Linked DNA regions of Homo sapiens. The protein of the gene in region 5 interacts with the protein of the main gene of each other region in a pairwise test. Each region holds a gene or a part of one and is shown on either strand. Other genes may lie near its edges.

Region 1 (3,500 bases), on a different chromosome or scaffold from region 5:
AACACATATTAACCACCTGATAGGTCCTAAGGATTAAATGAACAAATTTTGATGAACAAATAAATGGACACTTCCTGTCTTCAATGAGCTTTCAGTCTAGATGAGGAGATGGGCTTTAAATAGATTATTCCACAAATAAGTATTTATTTTCCATTTGATATGTGACATAAAGGGAACATATGGGATACTATAAGCATAGATAATGGACACTCTAACTAATATGAAGGGTCAGGGAATACTTCTCTGAGCAGATAATCAAACCACAATATGAAAAATGAGTAGGAGTTAGACAAAGAGAGGTGACCATTGGAGCCAGAGCACACGCATGTTTAGAAGCTCCCTGAGAAGGGGAGGAGCTGGGGGTGTTCCTCTGGTGGAAGGAACAGAGAGTATCTGGCCATGCTGGAGCATAATGAGTAGGGAAAGAATGGCCACTGACTGGGCTGGAGAGAGAGTGGAGGGACATTTGGCTTAGGGTCCTGTAATCCTTTTGAGGATTTTGGAAAAAGTTTGTCCTGTGTTCAATGGGCCAGATTTGTGTTTCTTAAAAAAGTCATGTTGGCTGCTGTGCAGAAAATGGCTTGGGAGTTGGAGGGGCAAGACAGGAAAGGACACAGGAAGACTAGTCAATGGGCAGTAGTTAGAGTGGTCCAGGAAAGAGAAGATGGGAGCTGTGACCTGCGTGGTAGCAATGGCTATAGGGAAAAGGTCAAATTTGAAATATTTAGAATATAGAATTGACAGAATTCAGTGATTGACTAAGGAGGGTAAGAAAGAAAGTTGTTAAGAATGACTCCCAAATAAGGTGCCTTGCTCAAGGTCATATCAGTTATTGCAAAGCAAGGATCCAGATTGGTTACTTGATTCCTAATCCATTATGCTTTCTATTATACCACTTAGCAGAAAGCCATGTAATATGGGAAGAATCTTAGCTGATGTTGCTGTTGGAACTGCTGTTATCTTCAAACTATCCAGACATCAAGTTTCTTTAGTCCCATTGTGCAGATCTGATAGGATTTAACAGAGAACCACAGTGTCTGGGCAGAAGATTGTATTGGGTTGGATTTGGGGCATTCCTGTCGTAAACATCTTTAAAATAGTGAATTCTACTTTTTAGCTGGACAAAAGAACAAAGCTCTTGGTGACATCTTATGTGTGATTCCCTCTACATTTTAGAGGGAAAGACCTGACAGTTTGTCTTTCACTGGAGTCATGACTTTATATTAGATATGCTTTTATGTACATAGTTATGAAAGAGAAATATATTTCAGCCCTGAAAAGAGTACTGATTTACATGGCCAGGGCATAAAGGAAATTGAATCTATCCTGCCTATTTGCGTTGTTTGATTTCTAGATACAGCTCTGGCTTGAGGTAATGCTGAATGACTTTAGATTTTAGAAAAAGATTTGTCTTTCACTTGTTGGTGGAAAAGGGGAGAGAATAGTAGTAGGAAGCATGGTGGCAGTAATAAGTACTACAGATAAAACGAAGGCATTTTCAAGCCAATCGAATTTTACTCTCAATTATTTTTTAAACAACTTGCAAGACTGGATTATTCCATAGACTGGTACTAATTATGATCTAATAGAGTAAATCGTAGCAGTGGAATGATTTCTTAGCTGCAAGTTAGTTTTATGTTTCTCAAAGGACAGTGTTTGTAGGAAAATGTGGTGGTGTGAATAGATTTGAATAAACTACTAAATTTTAAATTAAATTAAAAAGCTGTATTTAGCATTATGGTTGAGATTTTACACATACAAAATGTCAGGAAATTCTAAATTATAGTTCCCACAACAGCAATAATTCAGCCAAATTGCACATATGTATTAAGGCATTAAAGTTAACACTCTGTGCAATCATGTAATAAACTATATATGCATAAGAAAGCAGGTCATAGTAGCTTTGGGAACTATCAATTTGCATTTCCTGACTTGTACATTCGAAGTCTGAGTTCAAATGTGTACAAATGTAGTTGTTGAATTTCCAAATGTAGAAATGCAACTTCATAAATTGCTAACAGTTTGAAAGAAAATATGGACTTGCCTATGAAACTTGTATAGGTTTTAAATGTTTCATTATTATTATGGTTAATAGTATTTTTAGAAATACAAAGCATTTATTCTCAAAGAAATTTTCAGGCCAAAAGTATTTGCATTTTGAAATTAGCGTATCTGAACTTTGAAGGGAAATAAATGAAAAAAATCTAATGATGAGTTTATTTTTTCATTACAGAAGTATTATGTGCTTAATGAAAGAATAAAAACAAAATTGAAACATGTATAAAGAAAAAGATAATAATCTCCCTTCCTTCCCTTCAACCACTCCTGATGCAACCAGGGTTACTGTGTAGTATATAACTTTCTACATTTTGCTCCATGTTCTTTTTTTTTTGAGACAGAGTCTCGCTTTGTCGCCCAGGCTGGAGTGCAGTGGCGCGATCTCCCCTCACTGCAATCTCCGCCTCCCGGGTTCACGCCATTCTCCTGCCTCAGCCTCCTGAGTAGCTGGGACTACAGGCGCCCGCCACCATGCCCAGCTAATTTTTTTGTATTTTTAGTAGAGATGGGGTTTCACTGTGTTAGCCAGGATGGTCTCGATCTCCTGACCTCGTGATCCGCCCGCCTCAGCCTCCCAAAGGGCTGGGATTACAGGCGTGAGCCACCGCGCCCGGCCATTTTGCTCCATGTTCTTATAAACTTCTAGCCACCTATATAGGAATTTTTTGTGGGGGTCGTTTTTACAAAAATAGGATCATGCTATATATGTTAGTGTGCACCTTGCTTCAGATATCCCTCCAGGTTAGTATATAGTCTAGTTATCATGAGCATTGTTTGTTTCTTCTCTCACTGCAATCAAAGCTCTATGAAGACAGAATCTCATTAGCACATACCAGACTCTCAATAAATATTTTTTGAGTGAATGAATGCATTATGCCAAGTTGTGAGGAAGCAAACAAATACAATCTTTTCCCAGCGCTTAAGCAGCTTATCTGAAAAACAGATTCATTTCAATGTCATGTGACATATTCTTCGGTAGAGATATTCCTGAAAATTTCAGTAGGAAGGGGAGCATTTAAAGAAGTTAGCTTATATGACGATCTCCCTCAGACGTAATTTGAAAACCATGGAATTAAAAGATCTACAAATCTATTTTCTTTCATATCTATATAATATATGTGTAAGTTCAGTGTACAAGATCATAGTAAAATAGGTAGGTTTGTGCAAAAATTTAACCTTAAGGTTTAGACCGTAAATAATGCTTTAGTATAAAGATTTATAATCAGATTAATCTGTACTTTTCTGTTGTTTATTCAGTAATCTGTAATATGTGGTGTATCCTATAAATAAATCACCATGTTTTCATTGGTATTTAAAGATACCAATAATCTTTAATATACAATTTTTTTTCTCTGAACAGAGCATGTGACCATCTGCGTTGTATAGCCTGTGATTTCTTGGTAGTCAGCTATGATGACTATATGTGGGACAAATCGTGTGAT
Region 2 (3,500 bases), on a different chromosome or scaffold from region 5:
GTGAAGGAAGATTCCAGTTCGGGCTTGGAAAATAGTTCTGAAAAACAGTGAGTGGGAATGGAGCGAGATGTGTCTGGCCACCACCCTAAAGACCCTTCCTGGAGAGGCCCTTGGCTCAGGTGCTCTTGGCAGAACCAACTTCCAACTTCCAGCAAAAAGTTTTCCTTTGCTTCTCATGTACCTAACGATCACCCCAGTAAGGAGCTAGGGTTCATTCTTTGCCTAGGATTCCAATGGCAGGTTTTCCTTTCTTGTTAATCCAATTTATTTCAATGACAAGGATTAGAAAAGTTTTGCAACTTGTGGCCAGGTGTGGTGGCTCATGCCTGTAATCCCAGCACTTTGGGAGGCAGAGGTGGGTGGATCACCTGAGGTCAGGAGTTGAGACCAGCCTGGGCAACATGGTGAAACCCCATCTCTACTAAAAATATAAAATTAGCCAGCATGGTGGTGGGCGCCTGTAATCCCAGATACTTGGGAGGCTGAGGCAAGAGAATCCCTTGAACCCAGGAGACAGAGATTGCAGTGAGCCGAGATTGCTCCACTGCACTCCAGCCTGGGCAACAAGAATGAAACTCCTTAAGCTAGCAGAAGGCAAGAAATAACTAAAATCAGAGCAGAACTGAAGGAAATAGAGACACAAAAAACCCTTCAAAAAATTAATGAATCCAGGAGCTGGTTTTTTGAAAGGATCAACAAAATTGATAGACCGCTAGCAAGCCTAATAAAGAAAAAAAGAGAGAAGAATCAAATACACGCAATAAAAAATGATAAAGGGGATATCATCACCGATCCCACAGAAATACAAACTACCATCAGAGAATACTACAAACACCTCTAAGCAAATAAACTAGAAAATCTAGGAGAAATGGATAAATTCCTCAACACACACACTCTCCCAAGACTAAACCAGGAAGAAGTTGAATCTCTGAATAGACCAATAACGGGATCTGAAATTGTGGCAATAATCAATAGCTTACCAACCAAAAAGAGTCCAGGACCAGATGGATTCACAGCCGAATTCTACCAGAGGTACAAGGAGGAACTGGTACCATTCCTTCTGAAACTATTCCAGTCAATAGAAAAAGAGGGAATCCTCCCTCAGGATGATGAGGCCAGCATCATCCTGATACCAAAGCCGGGCAGAGATACAACCAAAAAAGAGAATTTTAGACCAATATCCTTGATGAACATTGATGCAAAAATCCTCAATAAAATACTGGCAAACCAAATCCAGCAGCACATCAAAAAGCTTATCCACCATGATCAAGTGGGCTTCATCCCTGGGATGCAAGGCTGGTTCAATATACACAAATCAATAAATGTAATCCAGCATATAAACAGAACCAAAGACAAAAACCACATGATTATCTCAATAGACGCAGAAAAGGCCTTTGACAAAATTCAACAACCCTTCATGATAAAAACTCTCAATAAATTAGGTATTGATGGGACGTATCTCAAAATAATAAGAGCTATCTATGACAAACCCACAGCCAATATCATACTGAATGGGCAAAAACTGGAAGCATTCCCTTTGAAAACTGGCACAAGACAGGGATGCCTTCTCTCACCACTCCTATTCAACATAGTGTTGGAAGTTCTGGCCAGGGCAATTAGGCAGGAGAAGGAAATAAAGGGTATTCAATTAGGAAAAGAGGAAGTCAAATTGTCCCTGTTTGCAGATGACATGATTGGATATCTAGAAAACCCCATTGTCTCAGCCCAAAATCTCCTTAAGCTGATAAGCAACTTCAGCAAAGTCTCAGGATACAAAATCAATGTACAAAAATCACAAGCATTCTTATACACCAATAACAGACAAACAGAGAGCCAAATCATGAGTGAACTCCCATTCACAATTGCTTCAAAGAGAATAAAACACCTAGGAATCCAACTTACAAGGGACATGAAGGACCTCTTCAAGGAAAACTACAAACCACTGCTCAATGAAATAAAAGAGGATACAAACAAATGGAAGAACATTCCATGGTCATGGGTAGGAAGAATCAATATCGTGAAAATGGCCATACTGCCCAAGGTAATTTATAGATTCAATGCCATCCCCATCAAGCTACCAATGACTTTCTTCACAGAATTGGAAAAAACTACTTTAAAGTTCATATGGAACCAAAAAAGAGCCCGCATCACCAAGTCAATCCTAAGCCAAAAGAACAAAGCTGGAGACATCACGCAACCTGACTTCAAACTATACTACAAGGCTACAGTAACCAAAACAGCATGGTACTGGTACCAAAACAGAGATATAGATCAATGGAACGGAACAGAGCCCTCAGGAATAACGCCGCATATCAACAACTATCTGATCTTTGACAAACCTGAGAAAAACAAGCAATGGGGAAAGGATTCCCTATTTAATAAATGGTGCTGGGAAAACTGGCTAGCCACATGTAGAAAGCTGAAACTGGATCCCTTCCTTACACCTTATACAAAAATTAATTCAAGATGGATTAAAGACTTAAACATTAGACCTAAAACCATAAAAACCCTAGAAGAAAACCTAGGCATTACCATTCAGGACATAGGCATGGGCAAGGACTTCATGTCTAAAACACCAAAAGCAATGGCAACAAAAGCCAAAATTGACAAATGGGCTCTAATTAAACTAAAGAGTTTCTGCACAGCAAAAGAAACTACCATCAGAGTGAACAGGCAACCTACAAAATGGGAGAAAATTTTTGCAACCTACTCATCTGACAAAGGGCTAATATCCAGAATCTACAATGAACTCAAACAAATTTACAAGAAAAAAACAAACAACCCCATCAAAAAGTGGGCGAAGGACATGAACAGACACTTCTCAAAAGAAGACATTTATACAGCCAAAAAACACATGAAAAAATGCTCACCATCACTGGCCATCAGAGAAATGCAAATCAAAACCGCTATGAGATACCATCTCACACCAGTTAGAATGGCGATCATTAAAAAGTCAGGAAACAACAGGTGCTGGAGAGGATGTGGAGAAACAGGAACACTTTTACACTGTTGGTGGGACTGTAAACTAGTTCAACCATTGTGGAAGTCAGTGTGGCGATTCCTCAGGGATCTAGAACTAGAAATACCATTTGACCCAGCCATCCCATTACTGGGTATATACCCAAAGGACTATAAATCATGCTGCTATAAAGACACATGCACACGTATGTTTATTGTGGCACTATTCACAATAGCAAAGACTTGGAACCAATCCAAATGTCCAACAATGATAGACCAGATTAAGAAAATGTGGCACATATACACCATGGAATACTATGCAGCCATAAAAAACGATGAGTTCATGTCCTTTGTAGGGACATGGATGAAATTGGAAATCATCATTCTCAGTAAACTATAGCAAGGACAAAAAACCAAACACCGCATCTTCTCACTCATAGGTGGGAATTGAACAATGAGAACACATGGACACAGGAAGGGGAACATCACACTCTGGGGACTGTAGTGGGGTGGGGGGAGGGGGGAGGGATAGCATTAGGAGA
Region 3 (3,500 bases), on a different chromosome or scaffold from region 5:
TCACCATGTTGGCCAGGCTGGTCTCAAACTCCTGACCTCAGGTGATCCGCCTGCCTGGGCCTCTCAAAGTGCTGGGATTACCGGCTGAGCCACCGCACCCGGCCTGGATGGTTGGTTTTTTGTTTTTGTTATTTTTTTTTTCTCTATCTTCTCTCTTTCTTTGGCTGGCTGTTTTTGAGAGAAGAGCAGGGTGATCTGATTTGGCCAAGGAGCAGGAGGCCAGCTTCCCCGAGGAAGGAACATCCAAAAAAACATCCAAGCTGATGCAAGAGGCAGTGTGAGCCTGGCCCAGGGAACGACATGTGGGAAGACAGGCGGAGTTGGGGGCAAGTGCTGAGGCCCCATAGCCGTGGGAAGAGGCTGGACTTTCTCCTGTGGGTGCTGGGCACTCTGGGGCCTGGGACCCAATCAGCGCTGAGTCTCTGGAAGCCCCAGTTCTTTTCTCGTTAAAGAAAAAATGTTGTGCTGGACATTGTTCTAGGCGCCGGGTAAACAGAAGGGAGCAATACAAAGCCCTGCCTGATGGAGCTGACATCAGGAGGAGGAGACAGACAGCAGACACAGAGCCATACCGTGCCAGGTGGAGATAAGTGCTGGGAGAGGAATCAGGTAGGGTTAGGGGAGAAAAAAAGAAGGAGATGGGGCCAGCCTGAGCAACATGGCAAAACCCTGTCTCTACAAAAACAAAACAAAAATTAGCCAAGCGTGGTGGTGCACACCTGTAGTCCCAGCTATAGCTACTCAGGAGGCTGAGGTGAGAGAATCGCTTGAGCCCAGGAGGCAGAGGTTGTAGTGAGCCGAGATTGCACCACTGCACTCCAGCCTGGGCGACAGAATGAGAGTCCGTCTCAAAAAAAAGAAAAGAAGTAGGCCTGATGTGTTTGAGGATCAGCAAGGAGGCCACCGTGGCTACAGCCAGGTAACCCAAGAGGGAGGGATGGGAGCTGAGGTCAGGAAGGCAATGGGGGAAGATCGTGCAGGGCCCTAGAGGCCTCAAGGACTTTGCTTTTACCCTGAGTGAGGTGAGAGCCACAGGACGGTTTGAGCATAGAAACAATATCTGACTTGTGTTTTTTTAAACAATTATATTGCAATATAAGGCCGGGCGCAGTGCTTACACCTGTAATCCCAGCACTTTGGGAGGCTGAGGTGGGTGGATCACGAGGTCAAGAGATCGAGACCATCTGGCCAACATGGTGAAACCCCGTCTCTACTAAAAATACAAAAATTAGCTGGGCATGGTGGTGTGCACCTATAGTCCCAGCTACTCAGGAGGCTGAGGGTGGAGAATTTCTTGAACCCTGGAGGCAGAGGTTGCAGTGAGCCGAGATCGCACCACTGAGCTCCAGCCTGGGCAGCTGAATGAGACTCCATCTCAAAAAAAAAAAAGAAAAAAGAAAAAAATGTATATATATATGGCGATATAATTTCCACACTATACAATCACCTCAAAGTGTACGATTTGCTTGAGACCAGGAGTTTGAAACCAGCCTGAGGAACATAGTGAGACCTCATCTCTACAAAAAAATAAAATTATCCTGGTGTGGGGTCGCACCTCTGTGGTCCCAGAAGCTCAGGAGGCTGAGATGGGAGGATCGCTTAAGCTGGGGAGATTAAGGATGCAGTGAGCCGAGATCTCACCTTTGCACTCCAGCCTGAGCGAGAGAGCAAGACTGTGTCTCAAAAAAAGATGAAAATTAAGGCCAGGCACGGTGGCTCACGCCTATAATCCTAGCACTTTGGGAGGCCAAGGCAGGTGGATCACAAGGTCAGGAGATTGAGACCATCCTGGCTAACATGGTGAAACCCCGTCTCTACTAAAAATACAAAAAAATTAGCCGGGCGTGGTGGAGGGCACCTGTAGTCCCAGCTGCTCGGGAGGCTGAGGCAGGAGAATGGTGTGAACCCAGGAGACAGAGCTTGCAGTGAGCCGAGATCACACCACTGCACTCCAGCCTGGGCGACAGAGCGAGACTCCGTCTCAAAAAATAAAAAATAAATAAAAATTAAAAATAAAGTGTACAGGATCAGGCGCGGTGGCTCATGCCTGTAATCCCAGCACTTTGGGAGGCTGAGGTGGGCAGATCACGAGGTCAGGAGATCGAGACCATCCTGGCTAACACAGTGAAACCCCGTCTCTACTAAAAATACAAAAAATTAGCCGGGCGTGGTGGCGGGCGCCTGTAGTCCCAGCTACTCAGGAGGCTGAGGCAGGAGAATGGCGTGAACCCAGGAGGCGGAGCTTGCAGTGAGCTGAGATCGCGCCACTGCACTCCAGCCTGGGCGACAGAGTGAGACTCCCATCTCAAAAAAAAAAAAAAAAAGTAAAATAAAATACAGCGTACAATTCAATGGCTTTTAGTATATTCAGAGTTATGCAACCATCACCACGATCAATTTTAGAACATTTTCATCACTCCAGAAAGAAACCCTGCACCTCTTAGCCATCCCCAATCTCCCATCTTCCCTGTCTTCCCCCAGCCCCCGGCAGCCACTCATCTACTTTCTGTTTCTATAGATTTGCCTTTTTTTTTTTTTTTTTTTTGAGACGGAGTTTCGCTCTTGTTGCCCAGGCTGGAGTGCAATGATGCAATCTCAGCTCACTGCAACTTCTGCCTCCCGGGTTCAAGCGATTCTCCTGCCTCAGCCTCCTGAGTAGCTGGGATTACAGGCATGCACCACCATGCCCAGCTAACTTTGTATTTTTCGTAGAGACAGGATTTCTCCATGTTGGTCAGGCTGGTCTCAAACTCCCAACATCAGGTGATTTGCCCACCTCAGATCCCAAAGTGCTGGGATTACAGGCGTGAGCCACCACACCCGGCCTATTTTTATTTTTGAGACAGAGTCTCGCTCTGTTGCCCAGGCTGGAGTGCAATGGCACGATCATGGCTCACTGCAACCTCCGCCTCCCGGGTTCAAGCGATTCTCCTGTCTCAGCCTCCCCAGTAGCTGGGATTACAGGCATATGCCACCATGCCCGGCTAATTTTTTGTATTTTTAGTAGAGATGGGGTTTCACCATGTTGACCAGGCTGGTCTTGAAGTCCTGACCTCAGGTGATCCACCCGCCTCGGCCTCCCAAAGTGCTGGGATTACAGGCATGAGCCACCACATGCGGCCAAATTTGCCTATTTTGGACATTTCATATAAATGGCCCCTGTGATCTGTGGTTCTTTGTGACTAGCTTGTTTCCCGTAGCCTAACTGACTTGTATTTTGGTTGGACCCCTCAGGCTGCTGGTGGAAAAAGATACTGTCAGGGACAGGGGTGGAAGCAGAGAGCCCTCAGGGAGGCGATGACTGCAGTGGTCCTGGTGGGAGATACTGGTGGTTGGGCCAGGGTGGGGGACCAGGAAGAAAGAAGTTGTATGTATTTAATTTGAAGGCAGAGACGATAGCTTCTGTATGTGGATGGTGTCTTAGTAAACAAAACAGTGAAGGTGTTTAACCTGAGCAGCTGGGAGGATGGAGCTGCATCAGCTGAGATGGGGGTGGCTGA
Region 4 (3,500 bases), on a different chromosome or scaffold from region 5:
AGTGAGTATATTTTGGGGATCTGGGGGCAGAAAAGGGATTATTTTTATTTTTTAAGTGTGGAAATGTGGCCTGGCGCGATATCTCATGCCTGTAATCCCAGCACTTTGGGAGGCCGAGGTGGGCCAATCACCTGAGGTCAGGAATTCGAGACCAGCCTGGCCAACATGGTGAAACCCCGTCTCTACTAAAAATATAAAAATTAGCCGGGCGTGGTGATGGGCACCTATAATCCCAGCTACTTGGGAGGCTGAGGCAGGAGAATTGCTTGAACACAGGAGACGGAGGTTGCAATGAGCCGAGATCATGCCATGGCACTGCAGCCTGGGCGACAGAGTGAGACTCCATCTCAAAAAAAAAAAAAAAAAAAAGAGTGGAAATGCATTAAATTTCTTCTTTTAGCCATTGGGCTTTAGGTCTTACTATTAAAAATCTCAACTGCATTTTGATAAGTCTGTTTCTAGGCAGCATTAGCTTTAGCAACAAGGATGGAGGGGTGAATGCCTCTGAATGGGAGAGGACACTGTTGAAATAGAATTGTGAATGTCTGTTTTTCTCAAGTATCTCAAAGAATTGGTAGGAGTGGGAGAAGAGAGAAGCCTTGAAATCTTTGGAGATTTTCCATTTGCATTTCACATCAGCAGAGTGAAGCCAATGAGTATGCAGCTGGTGGCGTGATAGCCAATGCATAGTCTTGGAAAAATGGAAAAATGTTATTAAAGACATGTTTTCACAGTTTTTTTCTCTACTATTCAGTCTATTTTGTGAAAAATGTCACAAAGACTCAGTAAGTATGCTCTCTACAAAGCATTTTGGTGTTTTTTTTTATGATTACACAGGTATATTAAATACAAGTAACCGTGATGTTTAAGGAGTGTGTGCAATTAATAGAATTTAGTCTCATGGTATAAGAATGACACACGGGACAAGATACGCAATTATTAAAGGAAAATTTTTTTTAAGGGAAAAGTTAAATACGTATTTCTTTTTTTTTTTTTTTTTTTTTTTTTTTTTGAGACAGAGTCTCACTCCGTCGCCCAGGCTGGAGTGCAGTGGCATAAATGAGGCTCACTGCAACCTCCTCCCCCCGTTCAAGTGAATCTCCTGCCTCAACCTCCCGAGTAGCTGGGATTACAGTGCACACCACCACGCCTGGCTATTCTTTTTTTGTATTTTTAGTAGAGACGGGATTTCACCATGTTGGCCAGGCTGGTCTTGAACTCTTGACCTCAACTGATCCGCCTGCCTCAGCCTCCCAAAGTGCTGGGATTGCAGACGTGAGCCACTGCAACCAGCTGAGTTAAGTATGTATTTATGTGTAATTTGTTATTAAATATAAATACAGTAGACTAAATATACAACATTTTAAGTCAAGGCAAAAGCAAGGTTTTATACACATGTAATTAACTGTCTTAATCCCTGTGAGACCTCAGTTTTCTCATCTCTAAAATGATGGAGTTGAACGAGAAAAACTCTCTCTCCTTAATATTTACTTTTTCTGCACTTTAGGGTGTGGTAGGAGAAATGTGAAGATTAACTTAATAAGTAATTATTAATCCCCTGTCAAATACTTCTAATTTTATTATTGAAACATGGAATTTATTCACCTTACAGAAAGGCAAGTAATTTCTAATAGCTCATGGTAACCTGTTACCTTGAACTGAGTGTTCATTGTTTACTAGGAGTGGTATACATTGTCCTGCGTATTCGTGATCTAATGTCTATTTGTATTAGTCTGTTCTCACTCTGCTAATAAAGACATACCCAAGACTAGGTAATTTATAAAGGAAAGATGTTTGATGGACTCACAGTTCCACATGGCTGGGGAGACCTCACAATCATGGTGGAAGGCAAAGGAGAAGCAAAGGCACGTCCTACATGGTGGCAGGCAAGAGAGCTTGTACAGGGGAACTCCCATTTATGAAACCACCAGATCTTGTGAGACTTACTACCACAAGAAAAGTATAGGGGAAACCGCCCCCATGTTTCAGTTATCTCCACCTGGCCCCGCCCTTGAAATATGGGGATTATTACAGTTCAAGGTGAGATTTGGGTGAACACACAGCCAAACCATATCACTAGTATTTTTTTATATATTTTCTGATACAAGCCAGTGTAACATAAAGAACAGCTGCGTGGTAAAAATAACTTTCATTCTAGATAGAAGACTACATGACTTGATATACTGGGGGTCTTTTTAAACTATAAATCTCATAAAGTGTTTTAGTCTCCTCATATGGTTTCTGGCCTGGATCTCCATTTCCAGAGTGGGGCTTTTAACTGGTGCCTTCCGTTTGGTCCCTCTCTAGAGCACTTGAGCCTGGTCTGAGTACTGTGCAGACCACAAGCAAGAATCTAAATGAGCAGACTATGGTAGTGTTGCCTGGGTTTGGATACACTTATTATGTAACCTTGGGCAAGTTTTTTAACCTTCTGGGCTCAGTTTTCTCATCTGTAAAACTGAATATCCTAAAATAAGTTTTTAGGATTATGTGAGACACAATAAGTAGGGACTTTTTAGCATAAGGGAATGTCCATGCGTTGTGTCACATGCTAGTTATAATTCCTGGCTTTCTGCTTCTCTGAAGAATAAGGGCTTGGCACACACATTAGTTGGGCTCATCTGATAAGCTCTAGCCCAGAGGGTGGCTCAGCATATGCATGCTAAGGCCTACTTTTTCATAACAGGGGCTTTCTTCTTGTCTTGGGGTAGACTAGTTCTACGCTGAGATATTGGGAATATGTTTGTAGTCAGCTTTTCTCTAAAAGTGGATGATGTGAGAAAATATGCCATTTATTATTTCTGGCTGATGAAAGGTTCCTTACAGGGACAGGACAAATCCGTGTTAAGATGTGAAAAGCTCATCTTTCCCAGTAATTTTACCTCCACAAATCTGTCCAAAGGAAATCATTACCAGGTAAATAGTATTTAATGTCTTTGTTGAAGTCTCTTACTTATAATAGTTAAAAAAATGGAAACAACCCAAGTGTACAATAATAGAGTAATTGTTAAATAAGATTCTAATTTAGACACTGAATATCATGTGGCCATTAAAGATTTATTTGAAGGGTATTTATAACTTAGAAACTATAGTACACAAAAAGTTAGATATAAACCTATGTATAGTGAGACCTTGGTTATATTTTAAAAGGTGTGTGTGTGTATAAAGATAATGTATATATACAAATCCATACATGTCATAGAACTGTGTAGATACACATACACAAACATACACAGCATGAATACAGGTAAAACTAGGAAAATCAGAATAAGATTGGTAGATTGTATCAATATCAATATCATTGTTGTGATGTTTACTGTAGTTTTATAAATGTTACCATTGGCGGAAACTAGGAAGGGGCACAAGAGATCTTTGTATTATTTCTTACACTGTGTGTGAGTCTATAGTTATCTCAACAAAAATTTCAATCAAAAAATGGCACCAGAGCTAGATTGTTGTTTAAGTAAGTTCTGCTGATCCTTCAGAGAAAGATATGTTAT
Region 5 (2,705 bases):
TTTTGCCAAGCCACCAGATCAGAAAAGGAAAGAAAGAAAAGCTCAGAGGCAAGCAGCAAAAAATCAAATGTGAGTGAAATTTGTATACTTAAAAATTGTATAAATTTTAATATTTATACACTAATTGGAAAATAACAGGTGTTGATCAGACTTGTTAAATGCATAACATCTCTTTAAAGAAGACTTGAACGTTTGAGAGTCATAGGGAAACACCAGTGATCTAAGTGTTTATTGAACTCTTACTATGAACCATATTTGTGAAAATAATCAGAATTGTAAATAACTGGAATTTTGGTAAATTGGCAAGATGAAAAATCTGTCTAGCTTTTTTTTTGTTTTGTATTGGGTGACAGAGTCTCACTTTGTCACTCAGGCTGGAGTGCAGTGGCACTCTTTCGGCTCACTGGAACCTCCACCTCCCGGGTTCAAGAGATTCTCCTGCCTCAGTCTTCTGAGTAGCTGGGTTACAGGCGCCACCATGCCTGGTAATTTTTGTGTTTTTTTTTTTAGTAGGGGTGGGGTTTCGTCATGTTGGCCAGGTTGGTCTCAAACTCCTGACCTCAGGTGATCCGCCCACCTCTGCCTCCCAAAGTGCTGGGATTACAGCTGTGAGCCACCATGCCTGGCCTATCTCACATATTTTCTTTGTATTTTACAGAATGTTCTTCTGAAAATGTCTTAAATATTAGCTGTCCAAATATCTTAATACATTTTGTTAAAGGGTGGAGAGTTTTTTCTCTGAGAGATAGGAAATACTAAATCTCTATTCATGATAGACTGTTTCTTCACCAGTAGTGCTCATTGCCACCCCAAAAATTTCATGTTCGATGGATGGATTTTGAAAATGAAATGAGTATTAAAATTATAACACAGTAGTGCAATAAGAAAACAAGTAGGTGTGTAATGAGTTATACTAATTAGGGAGACCTTTTTAGAGAATCTGTAAATAGGTATCTGCTTAAGACTGAAGGAAACTTAGTTGGGTAAGAATTGAAGTTAGCTCCTAAAAAGTTAGTTACTGATTTCCTAGAAGAGGGGTAATTGTTCTTGAATGTGAGAGCAATAATCACTGTCAATACTATTCAAGGTTAATTTTCTGTTGATTGCCCTGTTTGGAATTTAAAGGAAGAGGATGCTTCTACATATTTCTGTTACTTCATAATCAGGGAATTGATCAAGTTCTAGTTTCTGCAGTTAATTGTCCAGTTGGACAAGTTGGCAAGCTCTGAACCTCAATTTCTTCAGTTCTAAAATGGGATCAGACAAAATTATGTAATAGCTCTGGATTATGTGATTATCCAAGTGACCCATGCTTGTTCTGGGACCAAAGAAAATATACTTTGTAGGTTTGATGATAGTGTAAATGAAGGAAGACTACAAAAAGAGTTAGTTTTAATGCTCTATATTTCAAACACCTGGATATACTAAACAGTGTAAAATAACTTCTTTTTATTTCTTTCAGAAGACGATATATGGTTAATTTATTAAAGTAGAATGTAAGTATAGGAGATTATATTAGATAATGTGATTAGAGCAGTTACATTTGGTACTTGATAGAGGGAGATACTAAATAGAAGGTGGAGGATGTCAGTATATCTGTTAATATTTGAAAAGGAGTACAAACTAAAAGGGATGATTGCATGTTACTTTCGTACTTTAACTTGCTACAGTCTTTTTTTTTTTTTTTTTAAGTTTTAACTAAGCACGTATTCCTACATAATTCTCACTGTATTCCTGTGAGTTAGGTACTCTATCCCTTAGTTTGAAATGAGGAAACTGAGGCTCAGAAGTCAACTTCCTTGGGGTCATTCACATAGTAAGTAGTGGAGTTGGATTTGAACTAAGGTAGTCTAGTCTCCCATAATTTTCCCTCTTAACCACTATACCAGGATTTCTCATCTCTGTCCTCCTGACATTTTGGGCTGGATAATTCTTGGTCTTGGGGGCTGCCCTGTGCGTTGTAGGACTTTTAGCAGCATCCTTGGCCTCTTCCTGCTAGATGCCAGTAGCACCCCCTTTCTCAGTTATGACCGTCTAAAATGTCCCCCTGGAAAGAGGTGGTGGCAAAATTATCCCTGGTGAGAACTATTTAGAAATAGAAAAGGATGATCTTTCCATCATTTCCTCAAAACAATAAACCAGCAGAGCACATAAAAGGTCTAAGGACCTAGTGAACCGGAATAACATTTTTACGTTAGTCAGTTGGAACAGGGGCCTTTAATAATTCAGGATAAAATAAGGCCGGGCGTGGTGGCTCATGCCTGTAATCCCACCACTTTGGGAGGCTGAGGTGGGCAGATCACTCTAGGCCGAGGTGGGTGGATCATTCGAGGTTAGGAGTTCGAGACCAGCCTGGCCAACATGGTGAAACCCCATCTCTACTAAAAATAAAAATTGGCTAGGTATGGTGGCACATGCCTATAGTCCCAGCTACTCGAGAGGCTGTGGCAGGAGAATCACTTGAACCCAGGAGGTGGAGGTTGCAGTGAGGTGAGATTGCGCCACTGCATTGCAGCCTGGGTGACAGAGCAAGACTGTGTCTCAAATAAATAAATAAATAAAATAACATAACAGGTACGGAATAAAAAACACGAGTAAATTATTCCTTCAAGAGGGATTAATTTCCATATTTCATGGGATTATTGGGCTCAAAATAATCACTAAGTTTTAAGGAATTGTATAAAATTGTACTGTAGGGAACATGA
Region 6 (3,500 bases), on a different chromosome or scaffold from region 5:
TCACTTGTTATAAGAATTCCCTCAAGCATCACAGTTTTTCCCATATTTGTAATGAGTGGCCCATAAGTAAAGATCTCTTTTTAAAGTGTAATTTTATATTGAGCAAACAGCTTGATGTGCGTATTTTCATAAAGTCATAGAATGTTAAAGTTGGGTGGAAACTCAAATCACTTAAGTCAGGAGATAGGAACTACTTGTCCAATATCACAGAGCTCTTCCGTGTTGGGGTCAAGATCCTGTGGACTCCTGGGTCTGTGCTCTTTATACCTCCTTTAAACGTAGCATCTCATTTATTGTTTTTATTTTTTGTGCCAACTTTCTGGTATATCCTGATCTGTACTGTCTAAGACCAGTGTTTCTCTGCATAAGGTCTAGGAATTGTGCATAGTGAGAGCTCTGACCTTCTTGTAGAACTTAAAATGCTCGCTTATTACATTGCATTGTGTGCAATGCTGTGAATTACATATATCCCCATTGTATGGATTAATAAACTGAAGCACAGAGAGTTACTGTTATTTGCTCAAAATCCCACAGCTGGTAAGTGATGAGGCTAGAGCTCAAAGTCTGGTTTTCTAATCACCAAAATGCTTTTTCTAGTCCGCTAGGCTGCGAAGGCATGAGAAGAACCAGAGTACAAACTTAAAATGTGAAGAGAAAGGGTGGAGAAATTAACAGCAGGAATGTGGAATGGTGAATTTGGAAGAAGCCTAGGAAGAGACACCAGCCCAGCTTTCCTTTTTCCAGGACGTCTTTTCTTGCTTCCACCGCCATCTTGCCATCCTCACTTTCACAGTCTCCAGTACTGTGCCGTGTGAGTGACAGGGGCCTGACATAATTGTGGCAGGGACAGCCATCACCTCACTCTCCCTGCGCATCTAAACTATCCCTAGGCGTGGGTTCCTAGCTGGACCCAGTAGACAATGTACTTGTCTAACAAAGTATAGCTCTTCGGAAGCTTGACCCTAGGCCATCAATATTAGATCTGGACTCTCATCCAGCTACTTTATTGGGATAAAATGAATACTAAAGTCTCCAGGACAGGAACTTTGTTTCTTAAAATTTATCTTTGTAGTTTCATCACCTGTATTACCCTCCTAGGTCTGCTGTAATAAAGTACCACAAACTGGGTGGCTTTAAAACAACGAGATGTCTTCTTCCACAGTTCTGGAAGCCAGAAGTCTGAAATCCAGATGCCAGCAGGGTTGGTTCCTCTTGAAGTCTTCATGGAGAATCTGTTCCTTGCCTTTCTTCTGGTTTCCCGTGGTGGCCAACGATGCTCAGCCTTCCTTGGCTATAGACACATCATCTGGTCTCTGCCTTCATCTTCACAGGGCATTCTTTCCTGTGTGTGTCTATACGTCTTCTTATAAGGACAACAGTCTTGTTGGATTAGGGGCCACTCTAATCCAATATGACTTCATCTTAACTTGATAACATCTGCAAAGACCCTATTTTTATTTTTATTTATTTATTTATTTTTTTTTTCCTTTCTTTTTTTTTTTTTTTATTATACTCTAAGTTTTAGGGTACATGTGCACATTGTGCAGGTTAGTTACATATGTATACATGTGCCATGCTGGTGCACTGCACCCACTAATGTGTCATCTAGCATTAGGTATATCTCCCAATGCTATCCCTCCCCCCTCCCCCCGACCCCACCACAGTCCCCAGAGTGTGATATTCCCCTTCCTGTGTCCATGTGATCTCATTGTTCAATTCCCACCTATGAGTGAGAATATGCGGTGTTAGGTTTTTTGTTCTTGCGATAGTTTACTGAGAATGATGGTTTCCAATTTCATCCATGTCCCTACAAAGGATATGAACTCATCATTTTTTATGGCTGCATAGTATTCCATGGTGTATATGTGCCACATTTTCTTAATCCAGTCTATCATTGTTGGACATTTGGGTTGGTTCCAAGTCTTTGCTATTGTGAATAGTGCCGCAATAAACATACGTGTGCATGTGTCTTTATAGCAGCATGATTTATAGTCCTTTGGGTATATACCCAGTAATGGGATGGCTGGGTCAAATGGTATTTCTAGTTCTAGATCCCTGAGGAATCGCCACACTGACTTCCACAATGGTTGAACTAGTTTACAGTCCCACCAACAGTGTAAAAGTGTTCCTATTTCTCCACATCCTCTCCAGCACCTGTTGTTTCCTGACTTTTTAATGATTGCCATTCTAACTGGTGTGAGATGATATCTCATAGTGGTTTTGATTTGCATTTCTCTGATGGCCAGTGATGATGAGCATTTCTTCATGTGTTTTTTGGCTGCATAAATGTCTTCTTTTGAGAAGTGTCTGTTCATGTCCTTCGCCCACTTTTTGATGGGGTTGTTTGTTTTTTTCTTGTAAATTTGTTTGAGTTCATTGTAGATTCTGGATATTAGCCCTTTGTCAGATGAGTAGGTTGCGAAAATTTTCTCCCATGTTGTAGGTTGCCTGTTCACTCTGATGGTAGTTTCTTTTGCTGTGCAGAAGCTCTTTAGTTTAATTAGATCCCATTTGTCAATTTTGGCTTTTGTTGCCATTGCTTTTGGTGTTTTGGACATGAAGTCCTTGCCCACGCCTATGTCCTGAATGGTAATGCCTAGGTTTTCTTCTAGGGTTTTTATGGTTTTAGGTCTAACGTTTAAATCTTTAATCCATCTTGAATTGATTTTTGTATAAGGTGTAAGGAAGGGATCCAGTTTCAGCTTTCTACATATGGCTAGCCAGTTTTCCCAGCACCATTTATTAAATAGGGAATCCTTTCCCCATTGCTTGTTTTTCTCAGGTTTGTCAAAGATCAGATAGTTGTAGATATGCGGCATTATTTCTGAGGGCTCTGTTCTGTTCCATTGATCTATATCTCTGTTTTGGTACCAGTACCATGCTGTTTTGGTTACTGTAGCCTTGTAGTATAGTTTGAAGTCAGGTAGTGTGATGCCTCCAGCTTTGTTCTTTTGGCTTAGGATTGACTTGGCGATGCGGGCTCTTTTTTGGTTCCATATGAACTTTAAAGTAGTTTTTTCCAATTCTGTGAAGAAAGTCATTGGTAGCTTGATGGGGATGGCATTGAATCTGTAAATTACCTTGGGCAGTATGGCCATTTTCACGATATTGATTCTTCCTACCCATGAGCATGGAATGTTCTTCCATTTGTTTGTGTCCTCTTTTATTTCCTTGAGCAGTGGTTTGTAGTTCTCCTTGAAGAGGTCCTTCACATCCCTTGTAAGTTGGATTCCTAGGTATTTTATTCTCTTTGAAGCAATTGTGAATGGGAGTTCACCCATGATTTGGCTCTCTGTTTGTCTGTTGTTGGTGTATAAGAATGCTTGTGATTTTTGTACATTGATTTTGTATCCTGAGACTTTGCTGAAGTTGCTTATCAGCTTAAGGAGATTTTGGGCTGAGACGATGGGGTTTTCTAGATAAACAATCATGTCGTCTGCAAACAGGGACAATTTGACTTCCTCTTTTCCTAATTGAATACCCTTTATTTCCTTCTCCTG
Region 7 (3,500 bases), on a different chromosome or scaffold from region 5:
TGTCACCCAGGCTGGAGTGCAGTGGCACGATCTCAGCTCGCTACAACCTCTGCCTCCTGGGTTCAAGCAATTCCCCTGCCTCAGCCTCCCAAGTAGCTGGGACTACAGGCACATACCACCACACCCAGCTAATTTTTCTATTTTTAGTAGAGACGGGGTTTCGACATGTTGGCCCGGCTTGTTTCCTGACCAACTCCTGACCTCAGGTGATAGCCCGCCTTGGCCTCCCAAAGTGCTGGGATTACAGGTAGTGAGCCACTGCGCCCAGCCTGATTTATGATATTTTTAATTTATGATGGGTTTCTGTATGTAATCCCGTAGTAAGTTAAGAATGTACTAAATGCATATCACTTTCACCCCATCGAGTTATAAAATCGTAAGTCAAACCACTGTAAAGTTGGAGATTGCTGTAGTTTGTTTTAATACATAAGATCCTTGATGTGCTAAATTCATTTTTTGAGGGGAGGCAGAATATTAAAGATGACTAAGAGTACTGATTTTAAGAGTGGCTGCACACACTGATCTCTATCAATCTTGGGGACAGACCACTATGGTAAGACTCTAACTTTACCATAGCTTTGACTCAGGTTACTCAGAAATTGAATACACTCTGCTTTGAGATCGGATTGCCTAGTTGCATTGTGAACCTTTTATCCTTTATTTGTTCTACACATTCCATTCTACATCAGCATCAATCATTTTTAGAATCCTAGATGCTGGGTTGGGCAATGGATTTGGGAGCCAGGAGCACTGAAGTTTGGAAAGAAAGCCTTCAATTGGGCCACTTCTCTGGGACTGGCTCTGGGCTGGTAGCATAAATAGCATTATAATGGTAAATCTCCAGTCAAATGTATTTACAAGCAAAGCCCCAGAAATGTTGAACACTGGTACCTGGGACACAAAATAGCACTATATATTGTATATAATAACAACTTAGGTTCCAGATTGAGTAATCAATCATGTATCCCTTTAGCATGTTCCCTAAGTGTTTAAATCAGAGGTGAGTGAGATTAAGAGGATGAAGGAGGTAAACTAGAACGAGTAACTTTTTAGTCCTTGCATTGATTAGAGTTGTTATGAGTGCACTGTGTGATTTAAGTTACTAATCTATCAAAGTGTTCCTTCATAACAAAAAAAAAAAGAAAAAAAAATTTACTAACCTAGTGAAGGAAATGGAAAGGCCACAATTCCATTTACAACATAGATTTTCTTTTAAGAAGTGCAACATTCTGATTTCAGAAAAAAACAAAAAACTAAAATATGTAGGCTGCTTTCTAACTCGAAAAATGACTTTATTAGCATGTTTGAATAAAAAGGTACAAACTAAAGCCCATCTGGTAGAGTTTAAATATTGTGAGAAAGGTTTACAGTGCAGGCTGATTTGAGAGGCCTATTAACTCATTGTTTCCTCTAACTTTTCAGATGTGATTCTGGGTGTCATCTGTCACATTTGTAAAATGAGTATATTATCACACAATCCTTCGCAACTGTGCCAGCACTTCCCTAGCAAACTGCAAACTTGAGTTTTTCAGGAAAACAGTTTACATGAGAAAAGGCAAGTTCTTTCCCATTTCGAATGAAGTACCATTAAACTCTGTCACCTAGTGAAAAATAATAAAAATACTTGCAACTTTTACTGGGTTTTCATTATTCTCTGATTCAGCTATTAACTATTTATGAGTTCAATTTAAGAATATTTCTTACTTGGGGTTAGGACTGTGAACACCCCAGTTAAGAATCAGTGCTGTAAAATAAAAGGTGTTATGGGATGAGAAGAGTGCTGGGCACATGAAAACCACAGACGGCAAACTTTGAGAACCACCAAAACAGACCCTTCAGGTAGAATCTATACATTAAAACCACTGGAAAGAGGAAAGGGTTAAAAAAAAAATCCAAAACCAAAAAACAAAACCAACCTTTATTTTTGTTATAGAAAAAAGGAGGCTTATTACTACTCCAACTTCATTACTTATAACTGAAACAGCAATTACCATCAGTTAAAAGTACCTTAGGGCCAGGGGCAGTGGCTCGCGCCTGTAATCCCAGCACTTTGGGAGGCTGACGTGGGCGGATCACAAGGTCAGGAGATTGAGACCATCCTGGCTAACATGGTGAAACCCCGTCTCTACTAAAAATACAAAAAAAATTAGTCGGGCATGGTGGTGGGTGCCTGTAGTCCCAGCTACAGGAGAGGCTGAGGCAGGAGAATGGCGTGAATCCAGGAGGCGGAGCTTGCAGTGAGCCGAGATCGTCCCACTGCACTCCAACCTGGGTGACAGAGCAGGACTCCATTTCAAAAAAAAAAAAAAAGAAAGTACCTTAGGCTGGGTGTAGTGGCTCACGCCTGTAATCCCAGCACTTTGGGAGGCCGAGGTGGGCAGATCACGAGATCAGGAGTTCGAGACCAGCCTGACCAACATGGTGAAACCCTGTCTCTACTATAAATACAAAAATTAGCTGGGCGTGGTGGTGTGCACCTGTAATCCCAGCAATTCAGGAGGCAGAAGCAGGAGAACCGCTTGAATCCGGGAAGTGGAGGTTGCAGTGAGCTGAGATCGTACCATTGCACTCCAGCCTGGGCGACAGAGCGAGACTGTCTCAAAAAAAAAAAAAGTACCTTAAAGCAACAGCAAGAACATTGTGTAAGATCAAATGACCATCTGAGGTAATATAAAGTATGGATGTTGTTTTGTTTTCCTTTTTTCTCCTTACGCCTCTATGCTTTGAAATCATCTTCCTTATAATGTTTACATTAAAATAATTTGTCAATCTGTATACTTATGTGTCATGTTCTTCTGAGTTATATTTACCAATAATTTGATTTTTAAAAAGTATAATCTAATAAAAAAAATATTTATCCAAATTTCCCAGCGAAACCTTTGCAAAATCTGTCTGTCTGAACTATCAGGTTAAGAGGTTAAGGCTTAACTCACCTGGAAGAAGCTGCCTAAACTGACAGTATTACAACCTAATAGGTAATCATCTTTCAAATTTAACAATATTACCAACAAAATATTGTTTTGTGGAAGGGACTTAGAAAAGTGGTATAATCTCTCTCTCTCTCTCACACACACACATAAACATACACACAAACCCACCCCCAAAAATTTTTTAAAAAAGAGACAGTCAAACCAAATATGCTTCACACTTGTTTTGCTTATATTGATCATTTAAAAAGAGATATTAATCTTACCTATTGCCATGAATATTTCATTTACATTCATTGATGTTTTAGCGGATGTCTCCATGAATAATAAACTATTGTCATCTGCATAGGACTGTGCTTCCTGTTTACAGAACAAAAAATGAGATATATGAGATATATCTCTTGGAAATACACTACACCTGCTTTAAACTTGTTATAGAAAAGGAGACTTTCTTATTACTACAACCTGATTCCTATAATCATCTATAATCAACAACTATATAATAAGCTACAACAGAGGTAAGAGCACTGTGCAAGATAATTTTATAATGGACTATTTCCTTTTTTGTCTGAA

The links.
Region 1: the proteins of SYNCRIP (region 5) and CFAP418 interact in a two-hybrid assay, tested with the Homo sapiens proteins (one study listed by IntAct).
Region 2: the proteins of SYNCRIP (region 5) and PECAM1 interact in binary tests that used the Homo sapiens proteins (3 or more experiments, as listed by UniProt).
Region 3: the proteins of SYNCRIP (region 5) and MYPOP interact in binary tests that used the Homo sapiens proteins (3 or more experiments, as listed by UniProt).
Region 4: the proteins of SYNCRIP (region 5) and SDC2 interact in binary tests that used the Homo sapiens proteins (3 or more experiments, as listed by UniProt).
Region 6: the proteins of SYNCRIP (region 5) and PRMT8 interact in binary tests that used the Homo sapiens proteins (3 or more experiments, as listed by UniProt).
Region 7: the proteins of SYNCRIP (region 5) and RAB5A interact in binary tests that used the Homo sapiens proteins (3 or more experiments, as listed by UniProt).

Annotation. Positions count from the first base shown.
Region 1 is NC_000008.11:95,252,202-95,255,701, reverse strand, and holds part of CFAP418 (cilia- and flagella-associated protein 418), read left to right. Parts: intron 1-3,418; coding exon 3,419-3,500. UniProt on the Homo sapiens protein: May be involved in photoreceptor outer segment disk morphogenesis.
Region 2 is NC_000017.11:64,363,361-64,366,860, forward strand, and holds part of PECAM1 (platelet endothelial cell adhesion molecule precursor), read right to left. Parts: intron 38-3,500; coding exon 1-37. UniProt on the Homo sapiens protein: Cell adhesion molecule which is required for leukocyte transendothelial migration (TEM) under most inflammatory conditions.
Region 3 is NC_000019.10:45,892,614-45,896,113, reverse strand, and holds part of MYPOP (myb-related transcription factor, partner of profilin), read left to right. Parts: intron 1-481; coding exon of another isoform or gene 482-492; exon of another isoform or gene 493-1,645; intron 1,646-3,500. UniProt on the Homo sapiens protein: Transcriptional repressor; DNA-binding protein that specifically recognizes the core sequence 5'-YAAC[GT]G-3'. Dimerization with PFN1 reduces its DNA-binding capacity.
Region 4 is NC_000008.11:96,500,313-96,503,812, forward strand, and holds part of SDC2 (syndecan-2 precursor), read left to right. Parts: intron 1-3,500. UniProt on the Homo sapiens protein: Cell surface proteoglycan which regulates dendritic arbor morphogenesis.
Region 5 is NC_000006.12:85,616,182-85,618,886, reverse strand, and holds part of SYNCRIP (heterogeneous nuclear ribonucleoprotein Q), read left to right. Parts: coding exon 1-69; intron 70-2,705. UniProt on the Homo sapiens protein: Heterogenous nuclear ribonucleoprotein (hnRNP) implicated in mRNA processing mechanisms. Component of the CRD-mediated complex that promotes MYC mRNA stability.
Region 6 is NC_000012.12:3,497,703-3,501,202, forward strand, and holds part of PRMT8 (protein arginine N-methyltransferase 8), read left to right. Parts: intron 1-3,500. UniProt on the Homo sapiens protein: S-adenosyl-L-methionine-dependent and membrane-associated arginine methyltransferase that can both catalyze the formation of omega-N monomethylarginine (MMA) and asymmetrical dimethylarginine (aDMA) in proteins such as NIFK, myelin basic protein, histone H4, H2A and H2A/H2B dimer.
Region 7 is NC_000003.12:19,978,097-19,981,596, reverse strand, and holds part of RAB5A (ras-related protein Rab-5A), read right to left. Parts: intron 3,288-3,500; coding exon 3,194-3,287; intron 1,637-3,193; exon of another isoform or gene 1,423-1,636; intron 1-1,422. UniProt on the Homo sapiens protein: The small GTPases Rab are key regulators of intracellular membrane trafficking, from the formation of transport vesicles to their fusion with membranes.